5 separate regions of the Homo sapiens genome follow, and regions 1, 2, 4 and 5 are each reported to be linked to region 3. The links are microRNA targets in miRTarBase. Many come from high-throughput screens and were not tested one by one. Region 3 holds a microRNA gene; each other region holds the end of a gene's coding sequence.

Region 1 (5,127 bases), not on the chromosome of region 3:
AGGGGCTATTCCGGGGGCCACCTCTGCCCTCCAGATGCCGAGGTGGGTCAGCGGCCCCCTGGATAAGTGTCTGCCTCCCGGGACCCGTCTCAAGGCCACTGTGTCCGTTCTCAGAGCAAGGCATTTGAGAGAAGTAATGACTACAGCTTTGTCAGAAAGCTCATGAGGGAGCTCCTGGGATCTGTACGTGGGCAGAGGGGACGTCGCGGCAGGGCTTGCTGCATGTACAAGCCAGGGCCACGGGCGTCCGAGCCTTGGGAGGGCGGGAGAACAGGTGTGGGCACCACCCCTCATTCCCAGCCCAGGTGGGGACATCCACTAAGCAAGGTTTATCTTTTCTCTCCCAAGTGCTGAGCTTGCAAGACCTCTGCTGCCGGGCGGTCGTGTCCTGCACGCCGGTGCACCTGGTGGACAAGCTCCCGCTCCCCATTGCCTTAAGAAGCCACCTCAAGTCCTTCTCGATGGCCAACGGCCTGAATGCCAGGATGATGCACGGCGGTTCCTACTCCCTCACCACCAGCTCCACCCACAAAAGGAGCAGCCTCCGCAAAGTGAAGCTCGTCCGCCCCCCCCAGAGCCCCCCCAAAAACTGCACCAGAAACAGCTGCAAAATTTCTTAAGGAAGGCACTGAAAGAAACACGGCGGAATCTCTCCAGGAGAAGCTCGGCGTTACCCCCGGCAGCTGGTGGATGCATCTCAGATCCCGGTTCCTCTCGGCGAATGCTGCTTGCGAATGTGTGCGACGCCTTCCGTGTGATGGAAACACACTACCCCGTCGGACTTCGAATTTCTACGTGGATGTGCATGAAGCTCTTGTTTTCGATGTGTGTTTGTAAAGGGAAAATTAGTACTCTGCTCGACTCTTGGTAACATGAAATTCTGAATGTTACTTTATCATGATTGCACTGCAACTTTTTCCTTAAAATAACTGCTTTTGTAAGAACGGTGATATTGGAGTGATTAGTATAAATTCAATGGAATTTGAGAAGCAATGGCAGCGGGATAATTTAGAGTCACTGATATTACGAGAGGGGTCTTTTTGTAAACCTCCTTTTCAATGTCAAAGCGCCAATTTATAAAACGCTGCAGATGTAGAGGTTATGTGCAACTGATCTGTCCAGTTTGTGTATGAAATGGATTTGATAAAGTTTTTGCTAGTTATTTACTACATTTTGGGATTAATAAGTGATTTATATGCATATTTTTCTGTAAATCTACAGTTTTTTGTACAAGATATTCTACAAGTTATGAAGCTAAGGGAAGAAAATGCCAAAGATACCTCTAGTTATGTTGAACACAGCCAGCACAGTTTCGACATGTCAAGGAAGAGCTGTTTCAGTAAAGAATGAAGTGAAAACACTTATTTAGGAAAATGTTTCTCAACAATAAAATGTATAGTTGTTTCTCTCTTGGTAGAGTTGGCGACCGGTTCTTTCGAATTTTGTATTTATTTATTTATTTATTTTTGAGACAGAGTTTCGCTCTTGTTGCCCAGGGTGGAGTACAATGGCACGATCTGGGCTCACCACAACCTCCGCCTCCCGGGTTCAAGCGATTCTCCTGCCTCAGCCTCCCGAGTAGCTGGGATTACAGAGGTGCACCACCACGCCCGGCTAATTTTTGTATTTTTAGTAGAGATGGGGTTTCACCATGTTGGTCAGGCTGGTGTTGAACTCCTAACCTCAGGTGATCCACCCACCTTGGCCTCCCAAAGTGCTGGGATTACAGGCGTGAGCCACTGCGCCCGGCCAGATTTTGTGTATTTCTTATAGCCCTTTACTTCACTGCGCCACTGCCTGGTGTAGACATCACATATCGGAGCTAATACACGACACTGGCAACAAGGCTGAATCCTTGAACTGTTGTCGCCTGTTGAGAAAGGATTCCTTTTCCGGAACAGAAGTGCAGAGGAGGAGAGAGCGGAGAGTTAAAAGCTGGCACCCAGGCATGTGCCTGTCTGAGAAATCAGAGCCGTGCTCCTGAGCCTCGGTGAGGAGCTCCGAGGGGCTGTCAGGAATTCCGCATGAAGATGTAGCCCCTGACCCCGACTGCCTCAGAGCAGGGCTGACCGCAAAGACCTCCAGGGCCGCTCTCTTCCCTGGTCACACTGTTGAACGTTTCTCTGTGGCTGGGGGTCGCAAATGAGGGACTAAACCAAAAAAACGAAGCGAGAAAATACCCAGATGTTCCTAGTTCCTGCTGATGATCTGTAGATTCTTAGAAACTTAAGGGACCCAGCTGGGTGTGATGGCTCACACCTGTAATCCCAGCACTTCAGGAGGCCGAGGCAGCCGGATCAGAGGTCAGGAGTTCAAGACCAGTCTGGCCAACGTGATGAAACCCCGTCTCTAATAAAATTACAAAAATTGGCTTGGCATGGCAGCGCACACCTGTAATCCCAGCTACTCAGGAGGCTGAAGCAGGAGAATCACTTGAACCTGGGAGGCAGGGGTTGCAGTGAGCCGAGATCGTACCACTGCACCCCAGCCTGGGCGACAAGTGAAACTCCATCTAAAAAAAAAAAAAAAAAAGAAATTTAAGGGACCCTAGAATCAGGGGCAAAGCCTGTATTCAGAGATGGTGGAACCGAGGCCCAGACAGGAGAGAGGAGCACTGGTCCCTGCGGGTGGACCCAGGCTTGGGGGTGTCTGGCCACCTGGGCACGGCAGCCACGGGGACAAAGTCCACGGGGAGGCAGGGGTGTGGTCTGTGGGCAGAAGGTGAACCCTGAGGGGACAGTGTCTGGAGAGGGTGGCCAGCCTCGTGCAGGCACGCTGCAAAGACCTGTGCACCCTTCTCTCTGCTGTGCCACAGGTGGGGTGAGAACGACAGGGCCGACCTCCCAGCTGCAAACACAAGGACACTGAGATGCACAGAAAGGAGAGTCCACGTTGAAGAAACCCACGTTGAGGGGCCTCTTCTCCCTCCGTTCCCAGCTCGCTGATGGTGAAGGGTAAGGAAATGGATCCTCCCATTGCAACATTAAACCAGGCCAAACCTGTATTTTTCTCTTCCTTCCTTTTTCTTGTTTTGTAATTGATGTCTCCTCGGGACTACTGATAATGTCCTAGAAAGAATAAAATAAAGTTTCCCAAGGCTTTGTGACTCAGAGCTCTTTGGAGGTGTTCACCGAATGCACGGGCCGCCCGGAGGCCTTGGCCCTCCAGGGAAACACCACCAGAAGTCCCCAGAAGCGGAACATGTAGCAAGGAGGCTCCCCGAGATCTCCCAGAGGGAGCACAGCCCTGCCAAGTTATTGGTTTTGGACTTCCGGCTTCCAGAGCTACGAGAAAATAAATATTTGTTATTTAAGTCACCAGGTTTGTGGCGATTGTTACGGCAGCCTCAGGAAACTCCTACAAGGAAGTGAGTTACGCTCACGGCAGAAAGTGCTACAGCAAACCAAGGCAGAACAAAAACAGACGAAACCTAATACAGACCGGACTAAGTAGAAGACTGTGTGTTTGGGTGGTGAATATACAAAAAACATAAATATAAATTAAACCTTAGAGAAACTTTGTCATTTTCTTGTCATGTTCAGAGGTGTGGCCTGTTGCTTTAGATCTACAGATTCTTACACACTTTCTTCTCTTAAGAAAGGCTGGCACCTGCCTTTTAAAACCACTGTCCTGGCAGGGCGCGGTGGCTCATGTCTGTAATCCTAACACTTTGGGAGGCTGAGGCAGGCGGATTGCCTGAGCTTAGGAGTTCAAGACCAGCCTGGGCAACATGATGAAACCCCGTCTCTACTAAAAATACAAACCACTAGCCGGGCATGGTGGTGCACGTCTATAGTCCCAGCTACTAAGGAGGCTGAGGCATGAAAATTGCTTGGACCTGGGAGGTGGAGGTTGCAGTCAGCTGAGATTGCACCACTGCACTCCAGCCTGAGTGACAGAGTGAGGCTCCATCTCAAATAAAAATAAAACCACTGTCCCTACCCTGCCGCAGTGCTGAACTCGAGCTGATACTGGTTTTTCTCCTCTACATTCCCATGATGACAGCAAACCCCGCTGGAGCACAGAGGCCCTGAGCCACTGTGGAGAGGGATTCCAAACTCCACCTAGTCCCAAAGCAGTTCTGTTGCTCCAGCCTTCACCCTCTTCTAGGTGAGGTGACCGGCTACTTCCCAGCAGCCCAGAGGTGCTGTCAAGGCTGTTAGCCAAAGGCCACCGTGAACGCCCCTGACTTGCTGCAGCACCAAGCCTCCGACCATCGAGAGGGTGCTGGGGAGTCAGGGAGGATGGGCGGGATTTGGGCAGCCTTGTGGAGGTTTTAGGGAATATTCACGGCAACCGCTGCACCCTGTTCGATGCTGTCAGGAAGCAGGGGTGACTCCGGGACTTACTATCTTAATAATTCTTATCTAGAAGGTGAGAAAAGTGCAGCAAGGTGCAAGGCGTCATTGGTAAAAAGTGGCAGTCACTCACATCCGGCAGGATGGGGAGTGTTGGTCGTCGGGGAGGTGGGCACTGCTCCCACCTGTGTGCAGAGGGGACCCTGCTCTTGTCCTGCCCCCTCGTCACAGGGCGGCCTTGTCCGCAGGGCCAGGTCCAACAGGAGCCTCCCAGGGCCTCGCTGTGCATGCTCAGGGGCTGCCTTGCTCTTTCTTGTCCTGCCCCCTCGTCACAGGGCGGCCTTGTCCGTGGGGCCAGGTCCAACAGGAGCCTTCCAGAGCCTCGCTGGTGCCCAGGGGCTGCCTTGCTCTTCCTTGGTGCCCTTTGAGGTGACAGGAAGATCGCCGTGTGGGCCACGGTGAGAGGCAGGCATACCGGTCTCCATGCCTTTGACCGGGCAGACGCTGACCTTCCAGTTCAGCTGGAGGAAGACTCTGTGTGTTGCTCAAAGCCAATCGCCACCATCTGCTGGTTTCTTGATTCCTTGCCTTGAATGTTTTCCTTTCTTTCTTTTAGAGACAGGGTCTCACTCTGTTGCTCAGGCTGGAGTGCAGCGGCACAATCACAGCTCACTGCAGCCTTGAATCCTGGGCTCAGTGGTCCTCCCACCTCGCCCTCCGGAGTAGCTGACTGCAGGTGTGCACCATCACACCTGGCTTTTTTTTTTTTTTTTTTTTTTTTTGGCAACAGGGTCTTCATAAGTTGCCCAGGCTGGTCTCAAACTCCTGG
Region 2 (5,127 bases), not on the chromosome of region 3:
CACAGAGTGCGGCAAGGCGTTCTGCCGCAGGTTCACCCTCAACGAGCACGGCCGCATCCACAGCGGGGAGCGGCCCTACCGGTGCCTGCGGTGTGGGCAGCGCTTCATCCGAGGGTCCTCGCTCCTGAAGCACCACCGGCTGCACGCGCAGGAGGGTGCCCAGGACGGCGGCGTGGGGCAGGGCGCCCTGCTCGGAGCTGCGCAGAGGCCCCAGGCGGGGGACCCGCCCCACGAGTGCCCGGTGTGCGGGAGGCCGTTCCGACACAACTCCCTGCTGCTGCTGCACCTGCGCCTACACACGGGCGAGAAGCCGTTCGAGTGCGCGGAGTGCGGCAAGGCCTTCGGTCGCAAGTCCAACCTCACTCTGCACCAGAAGATCCACACCAAGGAGAAGCCCTTCGCGTGCACCGAGTGCGGCAAGGCGTTCCGCAGGAGCTACACGCTGAACGAGCACTACCGGCTCCACAGCGGCGAGAGGCCATACCGGTGCCGCGCCTGCGGGAGGGCCTGCAGCCGGCTGTCCACCCTCATCCAGCACCAGAAGGTGCACGGCCGCGAGCCCGGGGAGGACACAGAGGGCAGGCGGGCGCCCTGTTGGGCTTCCTGATGACGGGGACGACAGGCCGAGGATTCACGCTGGAAGCCCACCCAAGCCGGCGGGGCCCTAGCGCAGAAATTCAGAACCCCCTGTCCTGAAGGTGAAGCAAAGTCTAAAGAAAGGGCCAGCTCCCATCAGGAGCTCGGCTTCTTGCTCCAGCCGGGCACTGGGGAGGGAAAGGGCACCAGGCAGCCCGTGGTGTGGCCTCAGGAACCACTATCAGCCACCATTTCCTGGGGCCTTCCGGAAATGTCCAGGAGCGGGCAGAAGGGAGAGAGGGAGGGGCAGCTATGCTCAGTCCCCAAAGAGCAGGGCACAGGGGGCGCCACAGACGCATATGCAGCTGAGCTCCCCACAGGCCGGCCCGGGTCTTCGTGCAGAACCATTGGGCACAGCCAGGCCTTAGCGCCAGGCTCCGTGTGGCGGTCAATTCCAGGTGCTGTAAAGCCGACTAACAGGGTACAGGGAGCCTTAGCTGGCTGCCATGTCTCCTGCCTGTAATCCCATCACTTTGGGAGGCTGAGGTGGGAGGTTTGCTTAAGCCCAGGAGTTTGAGACCAGCTTGGGCAACATGGTGAAACTTCTCTACAAAAAATTTAAAAATAAGTCAGGTATCGTGGTCTGTGCCTGTACGCTGTAGTCCCAGCTACTCAGGAGGCTGAGGTGGGAGGATGGGTTGAGCCTGGGAAGTCAAGGCTGCAGTGAGCTATGATAGCACCACGGCACTCCAACCTGGTTGACAGAGTGACACCCTGTTTAAAAAAAAAAAGCCTAGATGGCTGGTGGAGCTCTATCTATCTATCTATCTATCTATCTCTTTTTTTGAGGCAGGATCTCTCTGTCAGCCAGCCTGGAGTGCAATGGCACAATCATGGCTTACTGCAGCCTCCAGCTCCCAGGCTCAAGCGTTTCTCCCACCTTAGCCTCCTGAGTAGCTGGGACTAAGGCACACACACTGTACTTGGCAGCTGGCGAAGCATTGTTTCTGAGTGTGTGAGGATGTTTTCAGTGGACTCAGTGAAGATCTGCCCTCAGCGTGGGCAGGCACATCCACTTGGTTGGGGACCCAGATGGAACACAAAGGGAGAAGACAAGCAAATTCTCTTTTCTGGAGGGAGACACCCATCTCCTGCCCTTGGACATCAGGACTCCAGGTTCTTCGGCCTTTGGACTCAGGCTTGCCACAGAGGCCTCCCAGGGCTCTCGGCCAGTCAGCCTCAGAATGAGAGTTACACCACTGGCTTCCTTGGTTCAACCACCTTCTTACCTGGACTGAGCCTCACTTACAGCTTCTCTAGGTCTCCAGCTTGCAGACAGCCTATGGGAGGACTTCTCAGCCTCCATAAGTGTGTGGGCCAGTTCGCCTAATAAATCCCCTCTCCTGGCCGGGCGCGGTAGCTCTCCCCTGTAATCTCAGCATTTTGGGAGGCAGAGGTAGGTGGATCACCTGAGGTCAGGAGTTCAAGACCAGCCTGGCCAACATGGTGAGACCCCCGTCTCTACTAAAAGTACAAAAAGTAGCTGGGTGTGGTGCTGGGTGCCTGTAATCCCAGCTACTCGGGAGGCTGAAGCAGGAGAATCACTTCAACCTGGGAGGTAGAGGTTGCAGTGAGCCGAGATCGAGCCACTGCACTCCAGCCTGGGTGACAGGGCAAGACTCTGTCTCAAACAAATAAAAATCCCCTCTCCTAAACTCCATTATTGGTTTTGTCTCTCTAGAGGACCCTAATACACTGCCCAGCAGAAGCCAGGAAGGAAGCCCTGCCAGCTCAGAAGGTGGGCCAGGAGAGAAGGGTGTGGCCGGAAGGGTAGCCGGTGGGGGTGCTGCATCCTCTTGGCCCCACGGGGAGCACCCTGTCACCCCTAACAGATGAAGAGAAGGTGAGGGGGGATTGAGTTACCTGCCCACTGGTGTGTCAAACTCCATGATGGGGGTGGGAACATGCAGACCTGGCCCCTCCAAGGCCCACTGCTCCCCGGGCTGTGCGCCCCACAGTCTGTGCCAGGGGCTGCAGAAAGAGCCATGGGAAGCCTGGCCCTGGTAGGGCACCAAGATGGGGAGGGCTGGATCCACCCTCCAGAGAACAAGAATCCTGGGCAGTAGCCGGGACATGGTGGGGGAGGCTGAAGGGTTGTCCCTGAGCATCCCCAACATGGAGCTCGGAAGTCTGGGCCATGGGCAGGAAAGCACGAAGGTCAGGGCCAGCCTGGGGAACCAAGAGCTGTGCCACGATCCCTTCCACCTGGGGCAGCTGCCCACATGCCCGCCACTGGGTTCCATCACCTGAGACTCCTGGCAGGTGCCTCTCTGAGTCTTTGTCCTGTGCTGGAAACTGGGATGTGCAGCACACATCTTCACACCCACAGCACGGACAGCGGGAATAACACTTCCTTTGGGGATCCAGGGTTTCTGGTGTCTCCAGATTTTTCAGGCGCCACCATGTTCCTCTCATCCAGACGTCAGCACCCAAGGTGGAAGCAGGTCATGGCATGCCCGGCCCAGCTGCAGTCCGAGTGCAGATCCCATGGCGAGCGTGGGATCCAGCCCAAAGCACAAGCCACGCACAGCCCGCCAGGTTGAGTGGGCAGGTACCTCCAACAGCCAGCCCAGGTTGAGTGGGCAGGTACCTCCAACAGCCTGGAGCCGTGAGGCCTTGCGCAGGGGCGTTGCCGGCCGTGGAGGTCTCTGGCTGGCAAAGTGGCACCGAAAGAGTCCTGTGTCATAACCAGACTCACTTGTAGCTTCTGTTGCTCTCCCTAGCTATTTGCAAAGCATCCAGGATAGGTTCATCTAAAGACATTCTGACTCATCTTGGACACGATCCACTTACTCTGTGGACCCTGTTCACAGAACCTGGAGTCCCTGCTCACCTTCCCCAACCCCTTATTGCTGGGTCATGTTCACAAGTTTCTGTCTCTTTTTGTTCCCAGTCCCGGTACCAGCTCAGGTCCAATCAGCTTCTGAACCTCTACTGTGCAGCGCCTGAGACAGGGTGGGAGAGACACCGACAGTAAAGCTCAGCCAGGTGCAGACTGCAGCCTGGAAGCAAAGGCTGAGACAGGGTGGGAGAGACACCGACAGTAAAGCTCAGCCAGGTGCAGACTGCAGCCTGGAAGCAAAGGCTGAGACAGGGTGGGAGAGACACCGACAGTAAAGCTCAGCCAGGTGCAGACTGCAGCCTGGAAGCAAAGGCTGAGACAGGGTGGGAGAGACACGGACAGTAAAGCTCAGCCAGGTGCAGACTGCAGAATGGAAGCAAAGGCTGAGACAGAGTGGGAGAGACACCGACAGTAAAGCTCAGCCAGGTGCAGACTGCAGCGTGGAAGCAAAGGCTGAGACAGGGTGGGAGAGACACGGACAGTACGCTCAGCCAGGTGCAGACTGCAGCCTGGAAGCAAAGGCTGAGACAGGGTGGGAGAGACACGGACAGTAAAGCTCAGCCAGGTGCAGACTGCAGAATGGAAGCAAAGGCTGAGACAGGGTGGGAGAGACACGGACAGTAAAGCTCAGCCAGGTGCAGACTGCAGCCTGGAAGCAAAGGCTGAGACAGGGTGGGAGAGACACGGACAGTAAAGCTCAGCCAGGTGCAGACTGCAGAATGGAAGCAAAGGCTGAGACAGAGTGGGAGAGACACCGACAGTAAAGCTCAGCCAGGTGCAGACTGCAGAATGGAAGCAAAGGCTGAGACAGGGTGGGAGAGACACCGACAGTAAAGCTCAGCCAGGTGCAGACTGCAGCCTGGAAGCAAAGGCTGAGACAGGGTGGGAGAGACACTGACAGTAAAGCTCAGCCAGGTGCAGACTGCAGAATGGAAGCAAAGGCTGAGACAGGGTGGGAGAGACAGGGACAATAAAGCTCAGCCAGGTGCAGACTGCAGAATGGAAGCAAAGGCTGAGACAGGGTGGGAGAGACACGGACAGTAAAGCTCAGCCAGGTGCAGACTGCAGCCTGGAAGCAAAGGCTGAGACAGGGTGGGAGAGACAGGGACAATAAAGCTCAGCCAGGTGCAGACTGCAGAATGGAAGCAAAGGCTGAGACAGGGTGGGAGAGACACGGACAGTAAAGCTCAGCCAGGTGCAGACTGCAGAATGGAAGCAAAGGCTGAGACAGGGTGGGAGAGAGACGGACAGTAAAGCTCAGCCAGGTGCAGACTGCAGCCTGGAAGCAAGGGCAGTGCCATCCTCTTTCGGGGCATTTCTGGTCACTTCAGTCTGCTGGGGGGATTCCGTGTCTCACCAGGAGACTCAGGCATGGACCTGGGTTGCCACTTTCTTCCTGTTACATGGATCTCTCTACCATGCCCCAGACCCAACACCTCAGCCTTCTCAAAGCTGCACTGCAGAAGTTCTAGCCAGAGCAGCCTGGTAAGAGAAAGACGTAAAGAGCATCCAAATACTTCCTTCCAAATGAGGAAGCCAAATGGTCCTTGTTTGCATTCAACGTGATCTTATATATAGAAAACCCTAAAAGCTTTATCAAAACATTCTTAGAACAAACAAATTCAGTAAAGTTGCAGGATACAAAATTA
Region 3 (5,115 bases):
ACCTGGGAGGCGGAGGTTGCAGTGAGCTGAGATCATGCCACTGCACTCCAGCCTGGGTAACAGAGCAAGACTCTGTCTCAAAAAAAAAGCCAAATCTGTAAACTTTCTGAAAACATTATGAGATTTACACACAGACCTACCTACCTTCCTTCCTTCCTCTCTCTCTCTTTCTTTCTCTCTCTCTTTCTTTTTTCCTTTTTTGTTTTTTTTAGTTCATCAGCTATCATAGTGTTAGCGTATTTTATGTGTGGCTCAAGACAATTCTTCTTCTTCCAATGTGGCCCTGGGAAGCCAAAACATTGGACACCCCTGGTTTAGGGCCTTGTGCAGCACTGAACCACAGATGGGACTTGGTGACAAATGACACGAACAGAGGGACCCCTGAACTCCCCCTCTTCTGCTGGGCCAGGGAATAAGCCTACATTCTCCTGAGCCCCTGCCTGGTCAGGTGGGAGCTGGGCACCTGCGGTCAGCTGGCGTTTTCTCTCTAGAGTTTTAGAAACTCTTAACACACCTCTTCTCCTGGCACATTTTACTGGCTGGAATCCCAGCTGCTTTGGGTGTGGGGTTGGTGGCCGGGGAGCCTCCGGGTTCAGTCGGCCTGAGGTCTGGAGGGTGGAAGGGGTATCTTAGGGTCCCCTGGGGTGCAGCAGGGCCTGGGCGGCACCCCTGGCTCCCATTCCAGGGCTGTGTCCCGTAAAACTCGTTCCATCCACTTCTGCCTGCCCCGTCTCCTGCTGAGCTTGACGTGCAGTGCGTGGGGTGAGCTTTTCACCCCCTACCACGGGTGGAGCCCGAGGAATCGTGGAGGGAGCTTGGTCTCCCCGAGGTGCTCAGTGAGCTGTGGGGACTGAGGGCGTGAGCTGTGGGGACCGGAGCCCTTCAGGGCCCGGGTGTGACTGAAGGCGTCAGTGTCGGGGGTTTCCCCAGGATACCTGCCATCGGCCTGGCTTGGTTGCGGTTGTGGCTGGGGGGTCTGTGGTGAGCTGTGCAGGTCAGGGGTGGATGGGCTGCCGCTTCCGCTGCCTTCCCCAGACCCCTGCTGTCTCCAGAGCTTGGATGCTCCCCTCAGTGGCAGCTGGAGCCCAGGGCTTTGGACCGACTCTTCATACCGCAGATGCCTCTGAGCACCGTGTGTTCGGGCCGTGTGCACTGTGCCTGGCCTGCGCCCCCACCGAGGGCTGCTACTGGTGTAAGCCGGGGAGGCCGAGGCAGCGTCTGGGTGGGGTTCGCCCGTGGGGGCTGCTTCGTGTCCCCAGGTGCTGTGGTGACTCTGGGAGCAGGGCATCCCTCTGCCGTGATGGGGCCCCTGTTCCACTCCAGGGCTGCCCGCCGTTTGCTGTGCACTCACTGCCCTGTTGGGCTCTCTCTGTGGCTGTGCTGCCCGCACAGAGCCTTGTGTGAGGGCCGAAGAGGAGCCTGTGTCCACCGCTGCCCCCACCGCCGAGTGTGGTGCTTCTGCGTGCAGCCTGGGGCGGCCGCCTCTCTTCCTGGATCAGCAGCACGTCCTTCCTGCAGCTGCTGTCTCTCCTACCTACCCTGCGCCCCCTTCCCTGTGCCCCCTTCCTAGGCCTGCGTTTCTCTCTCCTGTTACTGATGCGGAGACAACACCCTTGTTCTCCTCCGTGCCCCTCCTGGGCGTGCCCGTTTTGCACACGGCTCACAGCGTTATATGGGAACTCGGGTTTTCTGCAGTGCTTGATGGAGCCTTAGGGGTCGGGGGGTCTGGGGCATCTGGCTCTCCCAGCATATGTGTTGGGAGAGTCGCCGGCTTTGCGAAGGCCTGAGAAAGGCAAGGCAGGCCGGGCTGATGAGCAGGAGGGCGGGCAGCTGTCCCGCGGGAACGCAGGCCTTGTTCCCATCAAGACTGCTGGGCCAGGCCCAGCGCGGTGGCTCACGCCTGTAATCCAGCACTTTGGGAGGCCGAGGCGGGCGGATCACGAGGTCTGGAGATCAAGACCATCCTCGCTAACACGGTGAAACCCCGTCTCTACTAAAAAAAGAAATACAAAAAATTAGCCGGGCATGGTGGAGGGCGCCTGTAGTCCCAGCTACTCGGGAGGCTGAGGCAGGAGAATGGCGTGAACCCGGGAGGCGGAGCTTGCAGTGAGCCGAGATCGTGCCACTGCATTCCAGCCTGGGCGACAGAGCGAAGACTCCGACTCAAAAAAAAAAAAAAAAAAAGACTGCTGGGCTCGAAGGCGTGTCCGCCTGGTAATGGGTGGGCTGGTGGGGAAGGGGGCCCCCTGCAGACCTGGCTGGTGGTCCTGGGGAGCCCGTCTGACTCTGGGAGGAAGGAACCGGCCCAGGCCAGGCTTGGGTCTGAGTTCCCGGGCAGGGACCGGGTCCTATGTGCGTCCGCGTGGGTGAGCTCCCCCTCGCCTTCCAGGGTAAGCAGGAAGAGAACGACGTGGTGGAGAAGCTGAACCTCTTCTTGGATCTGCTGCAGTCCTATAAGGTGAGTCTTGGCTGCTCCTTGGCTGGGGGCAGAACTTTCAGGAATGATCTTAGGATCCTTCAAGGGTCTAACTCCTGGGGGACGGAAGAGGAGCTGAGAAGCCAGGGCTGCAGGGGAAGACGGGGCCTTCCGTCTGGCGGGGGTGCTTCCCTCGGCCGGCTCCGCAGGGCCCTGGCGCAGGCATCCAGACAGCGGGCGAATGCCTCCCCCGGCCCCGCAGGACCTGTGCGAGCGGCATGAGAAGGGCGTGTTGCACAAGCACCAGCGGGCCCTGCACAAGTACAGCCTGATGAAGAGGCAGATGATGAGCGCCACCGCGCAGAACCGCGAGCCGGAGTCCGTGGAGCAGCTGGAGTCCCGCATTGTGGAGGTGGGTGGCGGGGCGGCCGAGCAGGCCCGTGGGAGCCTTTCCCCTCCCGGCCATGGTGGGACCCGGAGCCGTCCTGGTGGGCTCCCCTGGGTTGGCTCCTTGTGTCTGGAACAGAGCTGGGGGTGCAGTGGAGGCAGGGAGCTGGCCCGCGTGCCCAGAGCGATGCGGCTCCCTGCACGGTGCTCCCTCCCCGGCCCTCTCTTACCTCGCCACCTTCCAAATGCCTGGTGAAGGCTGAAGGAGAAGGGGCCGCCCTGGCTCAGGGAGCACGCTGGTGTTCGGGCCTTGGTGCTCCCGTCGCCGGCTGGGCCGGGTGCGAAAGGCGGCTGTTTGCTCCGCAGCAGGAGAACGCGATTCAGACGATGGAGCTGCGGAACTACTTCTCCCTGTACTGCCTGCACCAGGAGACGCAGCTCATCCACGTCTACCTGCCCCTCACCTCCCACATCCTCCGCGCCTTCGTCAACTCTCAGATCCAAGGGCACAAGGAGGTGAGTCCGCCCTGCTCCGGCCGCCGTCTCGGCCACGGCCTTTCTTTGTCCCTCCGCCCTTCCTTCAAGCCCGGCAGCGCGGTGGCCGGCCGCCCTAGAGAGGTTCTTTAGTGGAGTTGGGCTCCGCATGGGCCTTGGAACACGGTGCTCGCCCGGATCTTCTAGTCTCCTGTGTAGCCAAAATCAGAATCGTGAGGGTGTCCCTGTGATTCCTGGGGGGCGGAGGGAGGAGCAGACAGGGAGAGTTTGCCTCCTGGAGGGATTTGAGAAGTCGGAGGTAAAGCCCGCAGAGCTCCCGCACCCTGCGGCTGAGAGAAGGTTTCTAGCGCTTCGGAGCGCCGCAGGTGGCTGTTCTTCCAGAGAGCCCTGGCCGGCTTCCTCCAGAGCAGATGGCGGTTCCTTCAGCCTGGGAGAAGAAACGCTCCCAAGGTCCTGGGACAGGCCTCCGTTGATTTCTGGTGGCCAGCTCACTGCAGCACCGCTGGGATTACAGGCGAGCACCTTGTGCCCGGCTGAAATTAAGTTTATTAAGTAGCTGCAAGTAGCTTTCAAGCCATGGTCTGTGGTGTGTGTGGAATGGCACCGAGTGTCTGGGGTGGTCACGAGATTCCACACTGTCCCCGGGAGGTGCTTGGTGCCGTGGGTGCCGTCCAGCACTTTGGGAATGGCAGGCTGGAGGCGGCCGTGGTGGGGCTGGAGAGGCGGTAGACAGCCGCCGTGTTAGGAGCATCACTGTGAGATGGCCAGGGTCTCAGGGACCAGGTTGGACTTGGACATGTGAGTGGCCGGGTGTGTCCTCAGTGAAGGAATGGGACCAACAGGCGCCCGGAGCATGATGCCATAACCCCAGTCCTACCAGGTTTTTTATTGTGGTGGTGAGGAATTTCCAGCCCTGTGATGCTGTGTGCGCTGTGGTCCAGTGACTCAGCCTCCCCTGCAGGCCCCCAGGGTGCGCCCTGCCCTTCTCTGGCCACCTGAGCCCCTGCACGGCAGGTCTTGGCCTGACCCCTGCCTCACTGCCGCGCTCCCCTCCTCACATCCACAGCATCCGTTCCTTGCCCTGGTTCCAAAAGTGCTTGGCGAGTGGGGCCGCCGTTTGCATTCCGGTTTGGGTATTATTGATTTGGTGGATGTGGTCTTTGTGTTTTTGGTTTGCTTTTTGGTTTTGAGGTGGAGTCTTGCTCTGTCACCCAAGCTGGAGTGCAGTGGTGCAATCACAGCTCACTGCAGCCTCAACCTCCCGAGTAGCTGGGACCACAGGCAGGTGCCACCACATCCGACTCATATTTCTGATTTTCTGTGGAGACAGGGTGTCCGTGTGTTGCCCAGGCTGGCCTTGGTGTTTGACCTGCCAAGGCTTCCATGAGGCCAGTGCCCGCACGGCAGCTAGAGCATGTACTGGCAGTGACGCGATAGTAACGTTTCTCACGATTCCACGGCAGGCAGATTTGCAGCCCTTTGGTCCTGGGTGCAGGGATCGAAGCGTGGGTGTCTGTGACCACAGGTCACATGTCGCTGGTCCACTCCTCATTTGGGCTTCCTCTGTGCAGGATGGGCAGCACTGGTTCTGCCAGAGGTTTGAGGAGCTGGCGCACCTGAGGGCCCCTCCCTCCCTGTCACTGGCAGGCGAAGGAACTGGGATCAGAGCGTGAGGAGGAGCCCCGGCCCCGCCTGCTGATCTTGTTCTCTTCGCTTCCCTTTCAGATGAGCAAGGTGTGGAACGACCTGAGGCCCAAGCTCAGCTGCCTCTTTGCGGGACCACACAGCACCCTGACCCCACCGTGCTCCCCGCCGGA
Region 4 (5,000 bases), not on the chromosome of region 3:
ACTACTTAATTTTTCCTTCTTACTTAGAAATCACAATGCCTGCCTTGTAGTTTGTTGTAAGAAGCAGACAAGTCGTGGAATATGAATTTGCTTTGCAAACAATAAGGTCATAGATGCACATGGGACATTTATACAGGAGAGCAGATCATGAGTGAGCCCAGGCTTGGATTCTGTCCCTGCAATCTTGGCAGCCATGCAGACCTCTTTGAATCTCAGGTTTCCCACCTCTAAATGAACTTGTTCTGAGTTCATAGGTCCCTCAAAATCTAAACCGTTACCTACTTTCTAGATTTCTCCATAGCTTCATATAAACAGATTTTTTTCCTAAGAATTTGTTAATTTAACCTATTGGATTAATACTATCATTGAAATGTGTATCAGATTTTAAGTATCATGATTTTATTCCCAATAAAACAAAAAATTATTTTCTATGATGAATATGCATACAATAAAAATGACGAGAAATCATTTTTGGTACTTGTCTGAAGAACTCATCCCCAATTTTTGCCTTTTTTGCTTTGCAAAGCACATTTTCTTGTAGGAACATATTTTCAGGGTGAGATGAACAAGTCATAGTTATAAGTTCTTTTTTTTTTTTTTTTTTGAGACAGAGTCTCACTCTGTCACCCAGGCTGGAGTGCAGTGGCGCGATCTCTGCTCACTGCAAGCTCTGCCTCCCGGGTTCATGCCATTCTCCTGCCTCAGCCTCCCGAGCAGCTGGGACTACAGGTGACCACCACAATGCCTGGCTAATTTTTTGTATTTTTAGCAGAGAGGGGGTTTCACCGTGATGAAACCAGGATGGTCTCCATCTCCTGACCTCGTGATCCCCCCACCTTGGCCTCCCAAAGTGCTGGGATTACAGGCAAGAGCCACCGCGCCCACCAGTTCTAAGTTCCGATACATGTACTTGCTACTTAAGAAAAACATGCCGAATTTAAAGCAAATAGTACTGTAATAAAAAAATCTGATTTTCCTGAAAATGGTTTAATTTTATGATGTAAATGCAAATCTTAGAAGTAAAAACTTTTTTCAAAGAAGACTTTTATCAGACTCAATTAGCAGTTAAATGGGTAGAGAGAGGATGTCAGTGTACGAGAAGCCATATGGAGTTTTGGGTGGCCAGGAGCAGGAAGTCAGGCAGGTTTGGCTTCAGTTGTACTACCTAGAGATATTTTGGAAGAAGCTAGAGTGAACTGTGTACATATATGAGTTTAGATTTCATAAGACACTTAGCTTTACTGGAGTTCACTGCAGAAAATGAGGGAAAGAAAAATGTTCTCGATGTATACAAATGCCACAGACAGTTGTTTTTACACCTACTTTATTTGATAGCTTCTAATGGCTGAAGGAGATTTCAATATCAAGTAGTTGTTTGTCACAAATGTGCCTAAAAATAACTTTAAAGATCTTTGTAGGGAAGCAGAAACTCTTAAGTCCAGATGTTTTCTCAGGATAACTAAACCTGGTAAAATCACCTATATAGAAGTAAATAATATTTTATGGCCACATCTGCAAAATGAAATATGATCATCTTCATTGTCGATATAAAAACAAATGAAAGTTATGGGTAATTTTTGATAAAATGAATTATACAAAGCATCATTTATATTTTTATATTTGGCTTTGGGACATAAGGCAATATGGAGAACTTATGTGACACTGACACAAACACACACACACACACACACACACAAACTCAAGTACTCCTCTCTGCCTCATCCTTATTCCTTTCTGAGATCAGCCCATAATATCAGTAATCCTCTGCTGAACTAAAATAATATTTTTGCTCCAAAAGTCTGCTAGGGAAAACATCTATTAATATATGTTTTTAAATCAAATATTTCCAGAAATGCTTACAAGTCCCTTTAAATCTAGCAATGATAGCATAATAAAGGGCATATTCTAGGGAAGAAAATGCCCACCTAAAGTAGAAATTTACCAGTTAAAAATCACAAAACATCAAAAACTATTTTCAAGGATTATTTCCATTTACCTAATAGGTTTTTCCATTTAAAAGTTATAAAATATTTAAAAAGAGAAAACAGAACATTCAAATAACCTTAGTTTTTCAGTTTTACAATCAAGGAGTTGGACTAGATGCTATTTTTTTTTTCTCAGCTCTAACTATAATTTTAGTCAACATAAGAAGACGTTAAAATGTGTCCCACTGGTTCATTCAACTGTTAATAGAAAAAAGTGGCTTAAAATTGTGAAGTCTGAAAGTATAGCCATTCTAATTTACAGATAACAAAGGCAAGTCCTAGGAAGAAAAGTGACCACCCAAGGGCATCCATCCATTCAGAGATCAAGCAATGTCACTGTTTTCAAATCTGCCTGATCATCAATATTTTGCTTTGTTTTGTTTTGTTTTATTAATGGTTCTGGAGTCCCAGTCCCTACCCCTGGAAATTTTGCTTTAGTAATATGGGGTGAGATCAGAAATTTCATTTTTTAAAGAGATCCTCAATATTCTAAGGAACCACAGATCATACCAGACTACTTGGGATACACTGGTGGAGAGGAACAGATAGGTTGCACAGTCCTTGGGCAGGCTCTCCATTGTCACACAACAGCATTTTCCTAACAGGTCCGTCATTTTATGACCCAGGGTTCCTCTTTCCTGGTGTTTTCTCCCCTCTAGCTGGAAAGCATATTATGAGAGTGATATTACTTGGTGTCTAGTTTACTTTTCTTTGATAGCTTCCTGTGGAAAAGGATCTTCCTGAAGGAAATAAGAATTAAAAGAGTAGATGTATAGACCTTAGTTACCATCCAATACAAATCACTCTAGACCTTTAATTCCACTTAACTACCGAAACTGTCCTTACAGTAAAGTATGAATCTAGACATCACCATGCTACAGTCTTGAGCCTTTCAAGGAAGTCTGCAATTTGAAAATTATTTTCTTTACCTCAGGTCATGGGGTACAATGAAGTGAATTTCTCTAAATGGTTCAAATACATCATAAGGAGATGGCTCTTGGAATACATTTGGCATAAGAATTTCTTAGTAAAAGAAAAGCTTAAATAGAGTTAATATCTAATAACATAACATAATTGGTTTTATATAGTGACAGTAGAGAGCAAAGTTCCTTCTAAAATCTTCCATTTAGAATTCCAAGCCCCTCGACATTCATATTTCTGTCAGTTTTCAATATAGATTTTATGTGTTCACTGTATGCAAACTGTAGCCAAAATACACATTTCTATTCCTGATGCTACTGTGGATGTCAAGGTTTAGTTTAAGCCTTTTTTCGGTAGCAAACTGTGAGAAGTATAATTTCAGCTTTCAAAGAAATATTATTCCTGATCTTCCTTGTTAGTAAAAAAGTAACTTAGTTTGTTATCTATTAATTTTAAGGAAAAGATTAGAAAAAGGAAAAAAATAATAAATGACTTACCTCTAAGTATGTATGACTCCATGTTAAAGCAGCTAAACTAAAAGCTTACCACAACTTAAAGAAAAACTAAAATTCAACATCATTCAGTTTCTTTTTGCATCCCATTTAGGAAATGTTTGTTGCTGAGGCTGACAAAATAAATTCATCATTTAATCATGTCATTTATAATGCAGTCTCATGATACTGTCTCTGAGGATCAAATATTCAGTTAAAGCCATACTAGACTACCAAATAATATATAAAACATTTATGAACATTTTATGCTTGCTTTACAAGGCTGATCTATTAAACTTGTGACATTTTTATTTAAAAAGAATAAACAAGAATATCAATGGTATTATTTTATCCTTATATGGGTTAAGAAATTATTTATGAGTTGTCTTTAGAAATCTACCAATGTTAGATGTGTGCATAATTCTTCTTTTTCATTGTAGCTGGGGGCCAAGGAAGTGGTCAATTAATATTTGTACTGCAAATGCCTTAAGTGGATACCTATTAAAAGGTATACAAAATATAAACAGTACTGCATATTTTCAAAACTTTTAAATAAACACAAAGAATATATAGGTATACATGTTATAATTTCAAAGTCAACACTAGCACATAAGTTTTTCATATCTAAATACATACTAGGATACTTCCTATTTCAACACATGCACCTACAAACACATGGCCATGCACATAACCTTACTTTCTGCCACTTGCAACAAAGAATATACAATATTGTACATTGTTTCAACTTATATTGTATTGGAAAACTAATGAGGATGGCATTAAAAAATTCTGATCTAAGAAATCAAAATGCAGGAAGATAATTATTCCTTAGATTAAAAACACTGAAGACTGATGGAAAGTTAAGATTCAAATTGCTTGTCGGAAGAGAACAGGTCCGCCTGTAAACACTCAGAATGCTCTGTTTGACAAGTGGGACTAGAACTTCTGTAATATAGCAATCCAGGCCAAAGACTTAAACCATCAATGCTTCGGATCGCAGAGAAATGGTATAGTTGTGGGTAGTTCTCCGCAAGGCAGGGGGTGCAGATGGAGATCTGGATGCCCATCTGGAGGGGAGACGACGATTTGCTGGTCTAGCAGGTCGGGAAAATCCTTTTCCATGTGAGGCGTTCACTGACATGGATTCCTAGGACACAAGTAAAAACATTCCTCTCACTCTCTGGGTACCAACAATAGGCTTAATATATGATGGGTCTCAACTATAAGATTAGTCCGTTAGTAAATTTACAAGAAAGAAAAAGCATTGAAAACTAAAGAAGGTAGTTGTCTAATATTTGTGGTTTTGAATGTTTTAAAGCAATTCAATTTTAATATGGAATATGATATTTGATAATTTTGTACCTTTCCTTACACTGACAAATTTTAATACAGTTAATCTCTCTGTAGAACTAATGATGAGCTCAGGATTTAAAATTTCAAGTTAAATAACTTGAATATCATGGAAATACAGATGTTTCTTAGTGCGCTGTTAGTATGTTACAGTGTTATTTAAAAATAAAAAGATAATTTATAGAAGAAACTGTTCATTTATGTCAAATTCATTGACACTTTTAGAGGTGATACGCAAAAGGCACACAAACCA
Region 5 (5,127 bases), not on the chromosome of region 3:
AATACACTAACACTAATAATATCTGATGAGCTAAAAAAAAAAAAAATCACAAAAATATCTCATAACATTTTAAGAAAGTTTACAAATTTGTGTTGGGCCACATTCAAAGCCATCCTGGGCCACAGGCAGCCTGTGGGCCATAGGCTGGACAAGCTTGCACCAAGGCGTCCAAGGATGACAAGTAGAAAGTATCCAAGCTGCCTTCCCAGATCCTAGTCTGGGAGCTTCATCTTTTACTTCACAAGGTTTACTCAATCCCTTGGGGGCAGAGATATGGTTTTTACCAAACTAATGGACAAAGAATCAACATTCCTTAAAGAATGCGGGACTTACATGTTTAGTCCATGTCTTTTCATTTTTGTGATTTTTTGTTGGTTTCTTTGTATTTGTTCTAGGAGAAAAGACCCCAGAGAACCAAAGCAAGAGGATCCGAGAGTGGAAGTGACGCAGTTTTAAGGAATTCCAGGAGCTGACTGCCGATCAATGAGCCAGATGAAGGGAACAATCAGGACTATTCCTAGACACTAGCAAAATCTAGAAAATAAATAACAAGGCTGGGTGCGGTGGCTCACGCCTGTAATCCCAGCACCTTGGGAGGCTGAGGCGGGCAGATCATGAGGTCAGAAGATAAAGACCACCCTGGCCAACATGGTGAAACCCTGTCTCTACTAAAACAAATACAAAACTTCGCTGGGCACAGTGGCACAGGCCTTTAATTCCAGCTACTTGGGAGGCTGAGGCAGGAGAATTACTTGAACCCAGGAGGTGGAAATTGCAATGAGCCAAGATTGGGCCACTGCATTCCAGCCTGGTGACAGAGCGAGACTGTCTCAAAAAAAAAAAAAAAAAAAAAAGAAAGAAGGAAAGAAAGAAAGAAAAGAAAAGAAATAACAAGATATAGTGAGTCAGTAGATTCACTTCACAATTGTGGTACTAAATAACTAAATATAAGCTATCTACATATAATAGTAAGAAAAAGTTTGAAGAAAATTATATAACACTTTAAAATCAATCATAATAGACTATTTATGTAGTTATAGGTCCCTAGCAAGTTTCTGGATAGGAAGATTGAGTACTATTAAACACAATGTGTCTTCTTCAATTATTTGATAGAGTAACTGGTGGGATAATTACAATGAAAAATCTGCTACTTTTACAAAAACTTTAAAATAAATTCAAATTTATCTAGGAATTAATAGTAGACATTTGGTTCAGAAAAAAGAAGATCAGGGAGTGAAAAATGTAGCTGTCAGGTAAGTGGGGTAGCATGCACAGAATTTTATCATAAGTTGTAATATTCATAACATTATTAGCAGATGCATTTACAAAACAAAGAAATTCAAAAGTAGACTTTAGTATGTATAACATTTAATGTGTAACAATTTCAGTATTGTACATTCTTAGAGGAAACACCTAATTATGGAATAAATAGCATTAGCCAACTAATCAGAAATAAATGACTAACAATTCAACTTTATATCCTGTATTAGTCAGGGTTCTCTAAAGCAAGAGAAATAATAGTATATATGTGTATATAAAAGTGAGTTTATTAGGAGAATTGACTCACACGGTCACAGGATGAAGTTCCACACTAGGCCATTTGCAAGCTGAGGAGCCAGGAAGCCAGTCCAAGTCCCAAAACCCCAAAAGTAGGGAAGCTGACCATATAGCCTTCAGTCTGTGGCCAAAAGCCTGAGAGCCCCTGACAAATCACTGGTGTGAGTCCAAGAGTTCAAAAGCTAAGGAACCTGAAGTCGGATGTTTGAGGGCAGAAAGTATCCAGCATGGGAGAAAGATGAAGGCTGAAAGACTCAGCAAGTCTGCCCTTTCCATCTTCTTCTGCCTGCTTTATTCTAGCTGCACTGGCAGCTGACTAGATGGTGCCCACCCAGATTGAGGGTGGGTCTGCCTCTCCCAGTCCACTGACTCAAATGTTAATCTCCTTTGGCAACACCCTCACAGACACACCCAGGAACTATACTTTGCATCCTTCAATCCAATCAAGTTGACACTCAATATTAACCATCACATTTCCTAAACCAATATACCAATTATTGATTATGATTATGACAATCATTTCACATTGTATACATACATGTATCATCACACTGTACATCTCAAATATATGCAAGTTTTATTTGTCAATCATACTTCAGTATAGCTGAGAACAAGTTAAATGGAACAAATAAACCATGCTTTCAAAGGAGCCTTGGCTACCAAAATTCAAAAAAGAAAAACATGTTATTAATAGGAAAGTAAATTCCAAATAAACATATATATACTTGACTACTCATTTAAGCCTTCTGTGAAGAAAACCCAAGAAATTATGGGAGAAAGCTATAAAAATATACAACAAAATGATTAAAAACATTAAATTTTCATGGTAGACCTCAAAGTTATTTAACTTTCTTCTTTGTAAGTGTATTCTAAGTTGAAGCAAGGAATATGCAACAGCTTAAAATTTTATAAATTATATAATTTTTTCACAGAATTAGGAAAAACAATTTTTAAAATCACATGGAACCAAAAAAAAAAAGAGCCTGCATAGCCAAAGTAATACTAAGCAAAAGGAATAAATTGGAGGCATCACATTATCCAACTTCAAGTTATACCACAAGGCTATAGTAACCAAAACAGCATGGTACTTGTATAAAAGTAGACACATAGACCAAAGGAACAGAATAGAGAACCCAGAAATAGAGCCCCATACTTACAACAAACCTATCTTCAACAAAGCATACAAAAACATAAATAGGGGAAAGAACATCCTGTTCAATAAATGGTGCAGGGAAAACTGGATAGCCACATATAGAAGAATAAAACTGAATCCCTATCTCTTGCCATCTACAAAAATCAACTCAAGATGGATCAAAGACTTAAATTTAAGTCCTAAAAATTCTAGAAGAAAATCTAGCAAAAACATTTCTGGACATTGGTCTGGGCAAAGAATTTATGTCTGAGACCCCAAAAGCAAATGCAACAAAAACAAAAATAAATAAATAGGATCTAATTAAATTTTAAAAATTCTTCACAACAAAAGAAATAATCAGAAGAGTAAACAGACAACCCACAGTGTAGGAGACAATATTCACAAATCATCATCTTACAAAGGACTAATATCCAGAATCTACAAGGAACTCAAATCAGCAAGAAAAAAACAATCTCCTCCAAAAGTGGGTAGGACATGAATAGATAATTCTCAAAAGAAGATGTACAAACAGCCAACAAACATATGAAAAAATGCTTAAGTGCAAGAAGGGCGATTAAAATGTCAAAAAAAATAGATGTTGGCATGTATGTGTTGAAACGGGAATACTTATACACTGTTGTATCCTCTCTGGAACACAGTATGAAGATTTTTCAAAGAATTAAGAGTAGTAGAGAAAATAGCAGATGTACCATTCAATCCCGCAATCCCACTGCTCGGTATCTACCTGTATTAGTCTGTTCTCACACTGCTATAAAGAACTGCCCGAGACTGAATAATTTATAAAGGAAAGAGGTTTAATTGACTCACAGTTCTGCATGACTGGGGAGGCCTCAGGAAACTTACAATCATGGCAGAAGGGGAACCAAATACTTCCTTCTTCAAATGATGGCAGGAAGGAGAAGAATGAGTGCTGAGCAAAGGAGGATACCCCTTATGAAATCATCAGATCTCGTGAGAACTTAGTCACTATCACAGAAACCGCAGCACAGGAGTAACTGCCCCCATGATTCAGTTACCTCCCACCGGGTCCCTCCCATGATACATGGTGATTATGGGAACTACAATTCAAGATGAGATTTGGGTGGGGACACAGCCAAACCATATCACTACCCAAAGGAAAAGAAGCCATTATATAAAAAAAAAAAAACCTGCATGCATGTTTATTGCAGCACAATTCACAATTGCAAAAATATGGAACCAACCTAAGTGCCCCGCCACCAATCAGTGGATAAATAAAATGTGGTACATATACATCATGGAATACTACTCAGCCATAAAAAGAAACAAAATAATGTCTTTTGCAGCAACTTAGATTGGCTGGAGGCCATTATTCTAAGTGAAGTAACTCAGGAATGGAAAACCAAATATTGTACGTTCTCACTTATAAGTGGGAGCTAAGCTACAGGTATACAAAACATATGGAGTGGTATAATGGACATTAGATACTCAGAAGGGGAGGGGAAAAAACCCTACATATTGGGTACAATATACACTACTTAGGTGATGGATGCACTAAAACCTCCAACTTTACCAGTATACAATTCATCCATATAACCAAAAACTACTTGTACCCCAAAAGCTATTGAAATAAAAAATATACATATATTTAAAATTCAGATGACATCCACTCAGAAAAAAATTATAAATTATTGTTATATTTTAAATTACAAAATACAAGATAAACTTTAGAAGACATACATATTTAGATTTCTTATGTCTATGAAAAAAGAATACATGATTCAATATACTATTGGGGAACACCAAGAACATATAATTTTCAAAGGACTAAAGTCACATGACTAAACATTTATGAAAAAGTGTGCAAGCCTATTGGAAATAGAATAGCATAAAAGGTCCAGAAATAAATCCAAGCATATATGGCCAACTAATTTTGGACAGGGACACCAGAAAGACACAATTGAAAAAGGGTACCCTCTTCAATAAACGGTGCTAGAAAAAAATTGTATTTCCACATGTAAAGGAATAAAATCGAATCCTTATCTTACACCATATACAAAAATCAACTTAAAATGAATAAAAGACCTACATGTAAGACCATAAAACTCTTGGAATAAAACATAGGAGAAAGAAGAGAACATAGCTCCTTGACATTGGCCTTGGCAACAATTCCATTCCTTGGATAATACACTAAAAGGTCACGCTACAAAGGCAAATATAAATAGATAGGACTACATTAAGCCAAAATGTTTCTGCACAGCAAAGGAAACAACAAAATCAAAAGGCAACCTATGGATTGGAAATATTTGCAAACTATATATCTGATAAGAGGTTAATATCCAAAATTTATGTAAAAACTTACACAACTCATTAGTAAGAAAATATATAATTCAATAATAAATGGACAAAATGCCTGAATAGATATTTCTCCAAAGTTGACATAAAAATGGCCAACAAGT

What was found. The annotated mature microRNA hsa-miR-6836-3p reads AUGCCUCCCCCGGCCCCGCAG and lies in region 3 at 2,658-2,678, shown strand. An mRNA with a match to its seed (bases 2 to 7 or 8) in the 3' UTR can be bound and repressed. Matches are read on the target gene's strand: a 7mer-m8 pairs with bases 2 to 8, a 7mer-A1 pairs with bases 2 to 7 and ends in A, and an 8mer does both.
Region 1: miRTarBase lists RAB40B as a target of hsa-miR-6836-3p. Seed matches in the 3' UTR shown: 7mer-m8 at 2,443-2,449 and 7mer-m8 at 2,692-2,698.
Region 2: the mRNA of ZNF517 is a reported target of hsa-miR-6836-3p. Seed matches in the 3' UTR shown: 7mer-m8 at 2,023-2,029.
Region 4: the mRNA of KIAA0408 is a reported target of hsa-miR-6836-3p. Seed matches in the 3' UTR shown: 7mer-m8 at 672-678.
Region 5: miRTarBase lists SLC22A9 as a target of hsa-miR-6836-3p. The part of its 3' UTR that is shown has no 7-base or 8-base seed match.

Annotation. Positions count from the first base shown.
Region 1 is chr17:82,653,356-82,658,482 of GRCh38, reverse strand. RAB40B (RAB40B, member RAS oncogene family) reads left to right here. Exons shown (of 6, transcript NM_006822.3): 6 at 349-3,510. The coding sequence ends at 620. Among named protein-coding and RNA genes, the nearest start is that of WDR45B, 7.5 kb to the right of the region's middle.
Region 2 is chr8:144,807,789-144,812,915 of GRCh38, forward strand. ZNF517 (zinc finger protein 517) reads left to right here. Exons shown (of 5, transcript NM_213605.3): 5 at 1-2,296. The coding sequence ends at 607. It overlaps LOC100130027 (a long non-coding RNA gene), which reads right to left. Exons shown (of 5, transcript NR_147501.1): 5 at 1,022-3,288. Among named protein-coding and RNA genes, the nearest start is that of ZNF517, 11 kb to the left of the region's middle.
Region 3 is chr7:2,255,078-2,260,192 of GRCh38, reverse strand. It overlaps MIR6836 (microRNA 6836), which reads left to right and starts at 2,616; the gene lies at 2,616-2,678. SNX8 (sorting nexin 8) reads left to right here. Exons shown (of 11, transcript NM_013321.4): 8 at 2,390-2,458; 9 at 2,679-2,828; 10 at 3,170-3,319; 11 at 5,024-5,115. RefSeq lists enhancers at 732-801, 1,312-1,401, 722-1,501, 1,502-2,281.
Region 4 is chr6:127,439,739-127,444,738 of GRCh38, forward strand. It overlaps KIAA0408, which reads right to left. Exons shown (of 6, transcript NM_014702.5): 6 at 1-4,544. The coding sequence ends at 4,371. SOGA3-KIAA0408 (SOGA3-KIAA0408 readthrough) reads right to left here. Exons shown (of 13, transcript NR_174482.1): 13 at 1-4,544. Among named protein-coding and RNA genes, the nearest start is that of KIAA0408, 17 kb to the right of the region's middle.
Region 5 is chr11:63,409,407-63,414,533 of GRCh38, forward strand. SLC22A9 (solute carrier family 22 member 9) reads left to right here. Exons shown (of 10, transcript NM_080866.3): 10 at 396-888. The coding sequence ends at 456. Among named protein-coding and RNA genes, the nearest start is that of SLC22A9, 42 kb to the left of the region's middle.